Linked DNA regions of Homo sapiens. The protein of the gene in region 1 interacts with the protein of each later gene in a pairwise test. Each region holds a gene or a part of one and is shown on either strand. Other genes may lie near its edges.

Region 1 (3,657 bases):
AGCTCTGGAGGCTGGGAAGTCCAAGATCAAGGGGTCAGCAGGTTTGGTTTCTTCTGAGGCCTCTCTTCCTGGCTTTCAGATGGCTGCCTTCCTACAGTGTCTTCACATGGTCCTTTGTGTGCAAGCATGCCTGGTATCTCTTTGTGTGTCCAATTTCCTCTTTTTATAAAGACACAAGTCAGATTAGGTTAGGGCCCACCCTAATGGCCTCATTCTAACTTAATCACCACTCTACAGGCCCTAGCTCCAATTATAGTCATGTGACAGACTGCAGGATAGGGCTTCAACACATGAATTTTGGCAGGGGACACAGTTCAGCCCATAACATCCACAGATGCCAAGAGTCTGGCCACATAATAGGAGGGTTAAGAATGATGTATGGATATACTACTGAATAAATAAAGGAGGTTACCAAAACCTGCCACTATTATTATGTATAGTGTTGAGTATTATTGAGTATTGAGCATCTCAATCACTCTAAAAAATTAGCCCCTTATTATAAGCCATAAATCTCTAAACATAAGATCCATCCATTTTAGTGTTATGACACTTTGATAGTGGCCTTAGAACAATGCAGAGTTAAAGTTTTTTGTGATATTAGCTAAACAGGATAATTCTGGAAGGGAAAATGAGATGTTTCTCTCAAAATTAACTCAACTAGGAAGGCAGAAAGTTTCAGATTGTCCTGAGACATGCTAGCTTTGCTAAAGTAAAGTTTTATTAGAACTGTAAAAACAATACTCATTTATTCATCTGATAACTCTATATTGAGCATTCATCTATGCCAAGCGCTGAACTAAGATGAAAATACACATGTTCCTGGGCCTTAAGGAACTCATAGTCCAGAGTTTGCTTTCTTATATCACTTATGTGGGGCTTCACGTCCACTCTAATACAGGCAGGCTCACTATGTGCCTTTAACTGGGTCATTAGGTGTTGGCCTTATCCCCAGGGCCATCTACATCCACCTTTGCCTTTAACTTTAGACTGTCTCAGATAGTCTGTTTCTCTCTTCCACAGAAGTATTTGATTGAATTCTGCTACACCATAGCCCAGAAATACCTCTTTGAAGGGAAACACGAAGATGCTGTACCAGCAGCTTTGCAGTCCCTTCGCTTCCGTGTGAAGCTGTATGGCCTGAGCTCCGTAGAGCTTGTGCCTGCTTACCTGCTGTTGGCCGAGGCCAGCCTTGGTGAGTGAAACCGACTTGAGATCCTTGGATCCCTTAAGTGGTGTTATGTTTGGGTCACACCAATGATCAAAGAGTCACCCTTGACAGTGGCACCAAGAGACCTATTGTAGAAGGAGCAGGGTTGCTGTAAAGTTTAGCACAAGGTAGGGAAGGAGATGTCACAGACTTTTGTCTACAACTGGCAGAAATCCACTCAAGCTGGCCTGCACAAAAAGGAGGAACTTTGTGCGGGTGCTGTAGTATCCTACAGGAGCTGAGGCTTCATGAGGGACTAGAATTGGAGTGCCTTTCGTTCTCTCTTGGGCCTTGTCTCCTGTATCTACTTCTCTCTGGGTATCTATCTGCTTTGCTATTTTCCCTCTCTGCAGACCAGATTTGTCTACCCTATGCTCACTGTAGAAGACAGCTACCCCAAAATGTCAGATGGAGTTTTTCAGTTTACGTGTTTTCTAGGTTTGAAGTAGGCAGTAGAAACTAATTAGCTTCTGATTTCCAAATACAAATTCGTAGAAGACAGAATTTTGTTGACATGGCTTGAGTGTGGAATCCACCTTTATTCCCTGGGATCAGAGCCACATAGTTCAGAAATACAGGAACCCACCCCTATAGATGGGAGAGGCAATTCTGAGAGTATAGAGCAGACTTAGCAGATACCCTACATGGTGGCCACCATTTAAAAAAATGCTTCATATGTTTTAATAGCCACCATTAAAAAAATACTTTTTTAAAAGTAAAACTTTTTTAAAAGTAAAACTGTTAAAATTAAGTACAATATAAAGAACTTTTATCCCCTGAGTTCTCTGAGAGTAAGTTGTTCACCTGATTCCCTATCCTTAGAATACTTCAGTGTCCCCTTAGTAAATGAGATATATTGTATTGTGGTTATGAAGGAGAATGTCTTTGTGGGAACCACACAAGGGGACCCTGTCATCTAAGAAGACCCCATTCAAGTTTCTCGAATTTTCCCAATAACATCTTTATAGCAAAAGGATACAGTTCAGGGTCACACTTTTCATTTTGTTGCCATGTGTTGGCAACAAAACTCTGGAATAGTTTCTCAACCTTTTCTTGACTTTTATGATCTTGACACTTTTACAGGTTACAGGCCAATTGTATAAAACATTTCTCAATTTGAGTTTGTCTGATATTTCCTAATGATGGGACTCACGTTATGGATTTTTGGCAAAAACAGTACAGAGGTGATGCTGTGTTCTCATCCCATCCTATAAACTGGCATGTTTTCATTTTTTTCATTACTGATGATGTTCATTTTAATTACTTTATTAGGATGGCGTCTGCCAGTCTTCCTCCCTGTAATGTTACTCTTTCACCCTTCTGTAATTAATAACTTTAATTTTCATTTCATGGATACGTCCTTTGAAACTATATAAATATCCCATTCCTCATCGAATTTTCAATGTATTCATTTAGTTATTTGTATCAGTATTTTATCTTTATTCAATGGGCTTAAATCCATTACTATCGTTAATTTGATCCTCAAACTGTCCCTGATTTGACCAGTGACAAACCCCACTCAAGCTGGCTTCTGCATCTCCCAGATACAACCCCATTTGTTCTTTGCTCACTTGACTGCTTTCTGGAACATACCTCTAAAGAGCCCTGATCTCTTTCAGTGGAAAGTGAAAATCAGAAGCCAAAAGCTGTGCACTAGATGTACTCATGCTTTTGGGGTATTACTGCTCCCAGGCCTTCTCAGTGGAGTTAGGGAGTAAGTGTAAATATAATAATGGGTGTACGTATACACACATTACATCTGTATTTATTTCTATATCTATATATCTTTTTTTTTTTTTTGAGACCGAGTCTCACTCTGTCACCCAGGCTAGAGTGCAGTGGCGCAATCTGAGCTCACTGCAGCCTCCACCTCCCTGGTTCAAGCAATTCTCCTGCCTCAGCCTCCCGAGTAGCTGGGACAACAGGTGTGTGCCACCACGCCTGGCTCATTTTTGTATTTGTAGTAGAGACGGGGTTTCACCATGTTTGTGATCTTGAACTCCTGTCCTCAAGTGATCCACCTGCTTCAGCTTCCCAAAGTGCTGGGATTACAGGTATGAGCCACCGTGTCTGGCCTGTATCTATATATCTACATCAATATCTCTATGACCACTAGTCTATACTGTTTGATCCAGATCTAATACAGCACCATAGGGTTCAATCTGATTTACTTCCATTCCTTAATTGCAACTCCCTTTGCTGACAGCTTTCACTTTCATTGGTTTATTTACATATTAATGAGTTCCCCTGTATGAATCAATCCCCGCTCTCTAACTCCGTCCTTTCCACCTTATAGATACCTCTTCCCGCTCCATGGGCCCTGACTCCCCATTCCAGGCTGCCTCTGCTGCATGGATCCCTCCTCACTTGTGTGGGTTCCAACTCCCCATAACAGGCTGTTTGCCTGCAGGAATGCCCTGCTCACCCTGCCCAGGTCTGACACCCCATTC
Region 2 (2,687 bases), on another chromosome or scaffold:
GCTGCTCCAAGGGAATAGGGCATTGTATTGGGTGGTGAGAGAACAGTGGCTGCCACTTATATAAAACTTATTACATAACAGGCAGTATTCTAAGTGCTGTATATATTAACTCACTTAATCTTCAGACTGTCCTAATAAGGTGGGTACTATTAATGCCAGTTTTATAGATGCAGAAACAGATATACAGAAAATGAGGGAATTTGTCCCAGCTCACTTGGCTAGAAGTGGAAAAGCACAAATGCAAATTCAGACCCAGAGCCCACGATCTGACCCACTCTACTCTCTGGTTCTAACAGTTAGGGAATACCAACTACATGTCGGTCAATTGTGCTCAAGTCTTTCCATACATGATCTTGTTTCATCTTCACAATAACCCTTTGTGATGGGTATGATTCTCTCCATTCTACAGATTTCTAAATACAAGGCTCAGAGGAGCTAAGAAACTTGCCCAAAAGTCACATGGCTAGTGAGGTGAGTTGGAATTTAAACCGTATTGTTGTCTCCAAAGCCATGTTCTTCTGATACCTCATATCACACTTAGGGGCATTTTATTTCCAGATGGAGTAAAGGTTAAAGAAAAAAATAATCAGAGGGAAGATTTTCAGGAGGAAAAGAACTTCAGAATGTTTGAAGAATGAGAAGAACTGGCCAATCTAGATGTCCATCTCCAGAGGAACCTCTGCTGTGGGGCTGGAATGGCCAACATAATGGGAGGCCTGGACCCCAAGGAAATCTGCAGTAGAGATGGCCTCCATGCATCTTGAGGACCAGATACTGTCTTCAGGCAGCACTGTAAGCCTTTGAAACTGGCTTTGCCACACAGACCATCAGGGCCAGCACACCAAGACTGAAAGTCTAGGTGAGAAAAATGGGATGACAAACCATGTGATTCAACTGCCTTGGCACTGCTGGAACTTTTTTTTTTTTATTTGAGATGGAGTTTCACTCTTGTTGCCCAGGCTGGAGTGCAATGGCACAATCTCAGCTCACCGCAACCTCCACCTCCCAGGTTCAAGCGATTCTCCTGCCTCAGCCTCCCTAGTAGCTGGGATTACAGGCATGTGCCACCGCACCCGGCTAATTTTGTATTTTTAGTAGAGACGGTGTTTCTCCGTGTTGGTCAGGCTGGTCTCGAACTCCCGACCTCAGGTAATCCGCCCACCTCGGCCTCCCAAAGTGCTGGGATCACAGGCGTGAGCCACCACGCCCGGCCTACTGCTGGCATTCTTTCAAAATACTTGACTAACATCCAAGACCTAGGTTGCCCCATCAGGCCCATAAATTACCAGATTTAAATTAGCCCTAGTGAGCCCTCTGAATCTATAGGGAATTCTCTTGCTTACTGCTGTACGAAAGGTTAGAAAAAAAAGCTGCTTCCCAGGAGCCTTGGGTATACACACCAACACTAGTGGAGTCCGCAGGCACAATTTGTAACAGTTTTATTGAAATCTAATTTGCATAATAAAAGGTACCATCTGAAGTACACAATTTAGTGACTTTTATGGAGTTGTATATCCATCACCAAAATCAAGTTATAGAGTATTTGCATCATGCCAAAAATACCAATTATCTTCATTTGTAGTCAGTCTTTACTCCCATCTCCAGCCCCAGGCAACCATTAATTTGCTCTTGGTCTCTATAACTGCGCATTTTTTGGACATTTCATATAAATAGAATCACCCAATATGTAGCGTTTTGCATCTGGCTTCTTTCACTTAGTGTAATGTAATTGAGGTTCATCCATAATGTAGCCTGTATCAGTAGTTCACCTTTTTATTGTTGAATAATATTATATGATACCAAATTTTGTTTATCATTCACCAATTGATGGACATTTTGAGTTGTTTCTACTCCTTGGCTATTATAAAGAAATTCTGCTATGAGCCTTTGTGAAGAAGTCTGTGTGTGAACATATATTTTCATTTCTCTTGGGTAGATAATAAAGTGAAATTGCTAGGTTGTATAGAAAAATCTATCTTTAGCTTTTTAAAAAAGATACTGCCAAATGTTCTCAAAGTGGAGAAGTAGATGTGCCATTTTACATCCCACCAGCAACGTATAAACATTCTCATTTCTCCACATCCTTGTCAATATTTGTTATCATCTGTGTTTTTAAATTATTATAGACATTCCAATGGGTATTTAGTAGTATCTTGCAGTGTCATTTACATTTCTCTAATGACTAATGATGTTGAGTATCTCTGCATGCACTTATCCGCTCTTCATGTGCTTTCATTGGTAAAATATTGAGATGTTTTGCCCATTTTAAAATTAGATTGTCTTCTTATTGAGTTATAGAATTCTTTGCATGTTCTAAATACAAATCTTACACCAGGTATGTGATTTACAAATTTTTTTCCAAGTCTATCACTTCTCTTTTCATTTTCTTATTATTTTAACAAAACACCCACCTGACACCTGACTCTTTTCATTTCTTAATGGTGTCTTTCTAAGTGCCCAAAGGTTTTGAATTGCGATAAAGTCCTATTTATATCTTTAATAAATCATGCTTTTGATGCCATGTCTAAATTCTTTGCCTGTCCCAAGATATCATAGATTTTTCTCCCATGTTTTATTTTGAAACATTTATAGTTTTAGCTATTACATTTAGGTTTCTGACTCTTTTGAGTTTGGATGCGGTAACTTCGTCTTTTTGCATGTGGATATCCAACTGTCCCAGCACCATT
Region 3 (3,657 bases), on another chromosome or scaffold:
TCTCTGGACCACCTGCCCCTCCCCTGGGGTTCTTCCACCCACACTTGACCAAGCACTTTCCCAAGCAGCACAGGCCATAGAGGACCCCTTTACAGGACAAGAAACTGAGCGTGGAGAATGAAGTGCCTATCCATCGTGTCATGGTTCCTCAGAGGTTCCAGCCGAGCCCTTCCGACTCCAAATCTGGCCCTAGCTCCTCCACCCCTGCACCCACCGCCCCAGCTCACCCCTCCTTTTTCCAGCCACCCTGATAGTGATGTCACACTTCTCTGCTTCAATGCTCTTTATTTCATTAGGAAAGTAGCTGGGCAGGGGTGTTCCCCTGGGGGATGGAGTGGGGGTACAGACAGTAGCCTGGCTCCTGTCCCCTAGGATTGACAAACCTGTAGAGGAGAAGCAGAGGCGAGGCCTGAGCAAGGGGCTCTGGGGTGGTTCTGTGTGCTTGCCTGGCAGAGAAGGGGTTCTGAGAGGCCCCCTGATCTGTCACCCCCCACTTGGAAGGGGGGTCCCCAGGCAGGACTTGCTTAACCCAGGGCTTGAGAGGCAGGGCTGGCCCATAACGGTTGCCCACACAACCAGAGCAGCTGAGTGTGGGGATCCCCAGCCCCTTACCAAGGGCTCAGGGCTCAGCTGTGTGCCACGCAGCGGCTGCTGTGAGGTGTGTTCTGGTAGAAGGGGTCAGCTGAGGTCAGGGTTCTGCAGGGAGGCAAGAGGAGAGTGTTGGGGGTGTTGGCAGGCAGGGCATGGACCTTGTCTTCTTGTCTTCTGCCTGACCCTCCCTGAGAGAGCATAGCCAGGGTTCAGCCAGGGCAGCCAAGCCACAAACATTCTTTGCCTGCCAACTCTGGGCCATTGTTGATATAAATGTAATTTCTGAGGAATTGAATTGAGCAGAAAGGAGCTGAGTGAGGCCGAACCACAGTCCATTCATCTCTGGATCCGTCCCCGCATCCCCCTCTGGATCTGAACCACCCCAGAGCCCCTTGCTCAGATCCTCCCCATCCAGTCCACCGGGCCTGGGGAACAGGGGCAGGAGAGGGAGGAGGAGCCATCTGAGGGAGGGGTCACTGGAAGGAGAGGAGGGGAGGAGCCTGTGCTAGCAGGAGAAGGGACACCAGAGCCAGCCAGAGGAGATGGGCCTCTCATAGGAATGAACCGGACTGACAGCAAGAGAGGAGAGGAAGGGAAAGGCCTGGCACACGGCCTGGATGAGGGGTAGGGAGAAAGAACAGAGCTGGGGGTGGTGCCACCTTCCCACGTGGGGATGCAGGTGCCGCAGGCTCTCCATGGGGTTGGGGGTGGCCTCCATGCAGCTGACCGGCTGGCTGAGGGCGTAGCCTCCTGGCATCTGGGGCTGGATGCCACCTCGAGTCCAGCCTTCCTGGTCTAGACCCTTGGGGATGTTCTCAAAGTACCTGGAGGAGAGGAGGGGTCCTTGGCTGGAAGCTGGACTCTGCCCACCTCTGCAACCCCTGCTGCCCTTCTCCATCGACCCTCAGATCGCCCAGCCTCCCCACCTTTGCTCATGCTGTCCTCGTCTAGCTCTCCCTAAGCCCACGTCCACTGGGGGAACTCTTACTCAAAAAGCCTGCCCTCCCCTCCACCTGACGCTGAAACACTCTTTGGAGTGTTAAAGGACAGTTTCAGTGATGCCCCTGTCCCTGGCCTGCCAGTACCTTGGGGTGGGGACCCCGTCTCATCCACTTCTCTAGGCACTTAACTTTCCTTCCATTTCATTTCCATTTCCTTCCATTTCACTGAGCACAGCCAGGTCCAGAGGGTGCAAAGACAAGTAAGAAGGGGGTCCCACCCTTGAACTTATGAAGAGGGGGTGCAGACAGATCAATGCAGGAATCAGTGATGACAATCCCGGGGCTCTGCGCGCACCAGGAAGCACCAGCAAGCGTGCCTGACAGCCAGCAGGAGCTCAGGACACAACAGGACACGACAGGCTGGAAGGACCCAGCAGACAGGACTGGAGCTGGTCTCTGCCAGAGCCACAGGAGGAGGTGTTTGCCTAAGAAGGGGTCAGAACATCGTTGCCCCTCCCCCACCTCCGTGGGAACTGGAGCGGCCACTGTGCTGAGTCTGCTGTGCGGGCGGAAGCTCTGCTCCTCCCCTCTGAGCCTCAGGGTTTAGGCCAGAGGACAACAAACGGCCCTTCCAGCTCAGACTCTCTGTTGCTCCTCCAGGACACCGCCCTCCCCTCTTTTCAGTCTCAGTTCAAACGTCACCTGCTCAAGGCCACCGATTTCAAATCCGACCCGTGCGCACTGCAGCCCTCGCGATCCCTTTCTCTTTGCGCATTACCTAACAGCTCTCGCTAACTGGCTGCAGCCACATGCATGTCTCCTCCCATGCAGAGGTCTGAGCTCCGTAGGGCAGGAGCTGCACACACATTCCCAGGGCCTGGAGCAGGGCTTGGCACCCAGTCAGGGCTCAGTTAAAGTCTATTCCATGAATGGATTCTGGGAGGTATCCCGGAGCAGGGGGTGGGGCAGGGGGAGGAGACAGAGAGGTGGCAGGGACACCTTGAAGGACCAGGAGTTGGAGAGGAAGCAGGGTGGACACAGGTGACTGATGTTGTGAGGAAAGCTTGCGCTTCCTGGCTCGGAGTTTGTCCTAAGAATTATACTTCCTGGAGGCGGGCAGATCACGAGGTCAGGAGATCAAGACCATCCTGGCTAACACAGTGAAACCCTGTCTCTACTAAAAATACAAAAATGTAGCCGGGCGTGGTGGCAGGCGCCTGTAGTCCCAGCTACTCGGGAGGCTGAGGCAGGAGAATGGCGTGAACCCGGGAGGCGGGGTTTGCAGTGAGCCGAGATCGCACCACTGCACTCCAGCCTGGACGACAGAGAGAGACTCCATCTTAAAAAAAAAAAAAAAAAAAAAGGAATTGTACTTCTTGGCAGGACACGGTGGCTCATGCCTGTTATCCCAGCACTTTGGGAGGCCAAAGCAGGCAGATCACTTGAGGTCAGGAGTTCAAGACCAGCCGGGCCAACATGGCGAAACCCCATCTCTACTAAAAATACAAAAATTAGCTGGGCATGGTGGCACATGCCTGTAATCCCAGCTATTTAGGAGGGTGAGACAGGAGGATCACTTGAACCCATGAGGCGAAGGTTGCGGTGAGCTGAGATCACGCCATTGCACTCCAGCCTGGGCGACAGAGTGAAACTCCATCTCAAAAAAAAAAAAAAAAGAAGAAGAAGAATTACACTTCCTTTATACCACTCCTATAATGCTTTCCCCACCCAGTCCTGGCCCCAGGAGGCTTCCCCATGGCTCTGGGGCCACCTCCTTCCTGGAAGCCCTCCCTGATGCCCAGGACAGTCACTCCTAACCCAGGGAATGCACAGCACAGAATTTACCTTCTGAGGGAGCATCGAGCCCACCAACCATTGGCTGGATGGAATGTCTTAGCAGATGCTGCTGCTCCAGACTCCCTCGCACTGCCCTGTTCTTTCCATGCCCACCAGCCTGGCCACCAATGCCCTGCATCTCTGTGGGAAAGCTACCCTTGGGATGCTAGAAGCTGCTTTGCCTGAGCAAGGAGGCACCTGGGCTTTAATGTTGCCCTGGGGATAGCCTTTAACCAATGACCGATGGATGTGGGGGTATAAATACCCCAGCTCTCTCACCTTTGACTGG

The links.
Region 2: the proteins of ZMYND12 (region 1) and SAXO1 interact in binary tests that used the Homo sapiens proteins (3 or more experiments, as listed by UniProt).
Region 3: the proteins of ZMYND12 (region 1) and SAXO4 interact in binary tests that used the Homo sapiens proteins (3 or more experiments, as listed by UniProt).

The regions. Positions count from the first base shown.
Region 1 is NC_000001.11:42,446,002-42,449,658, reverse strand, and holds part of ZMYND12 (zinc finger MYND domain-containing protein 12), read left to right. Parts: intron 1-1,020; coding exon 1,021-1,192; intron 1,193-3,657. UniProt on the Homo sapiens protein: Required for sperm flagellum function and male fertility.
Region 2 is NC_000009.12:18,929,586-18,932,272, forward strand, and holds part of SAXO1 (stabilizer of axonemal microtubules 1), read right to left. Parts: intron 1-2,687. UniProt on the Homo sapiens protein: May play a role in the regulation of cilium length. Stabilizes microtubules at low temperature.
Region 3 is NC_000011.10:61,487,540-61,491,196, reverse strand, and holds the end of SAXO4 (stabilizer of axonemal microtubules 4), read right to left. Parts: intron 1,416-3,657; coding exon 1,251-1,415; intron 697-1,250; coding exon 627-696; 3' UTR 613-626; intron 384-612; 3' UTR 269-383; downstream 1-268.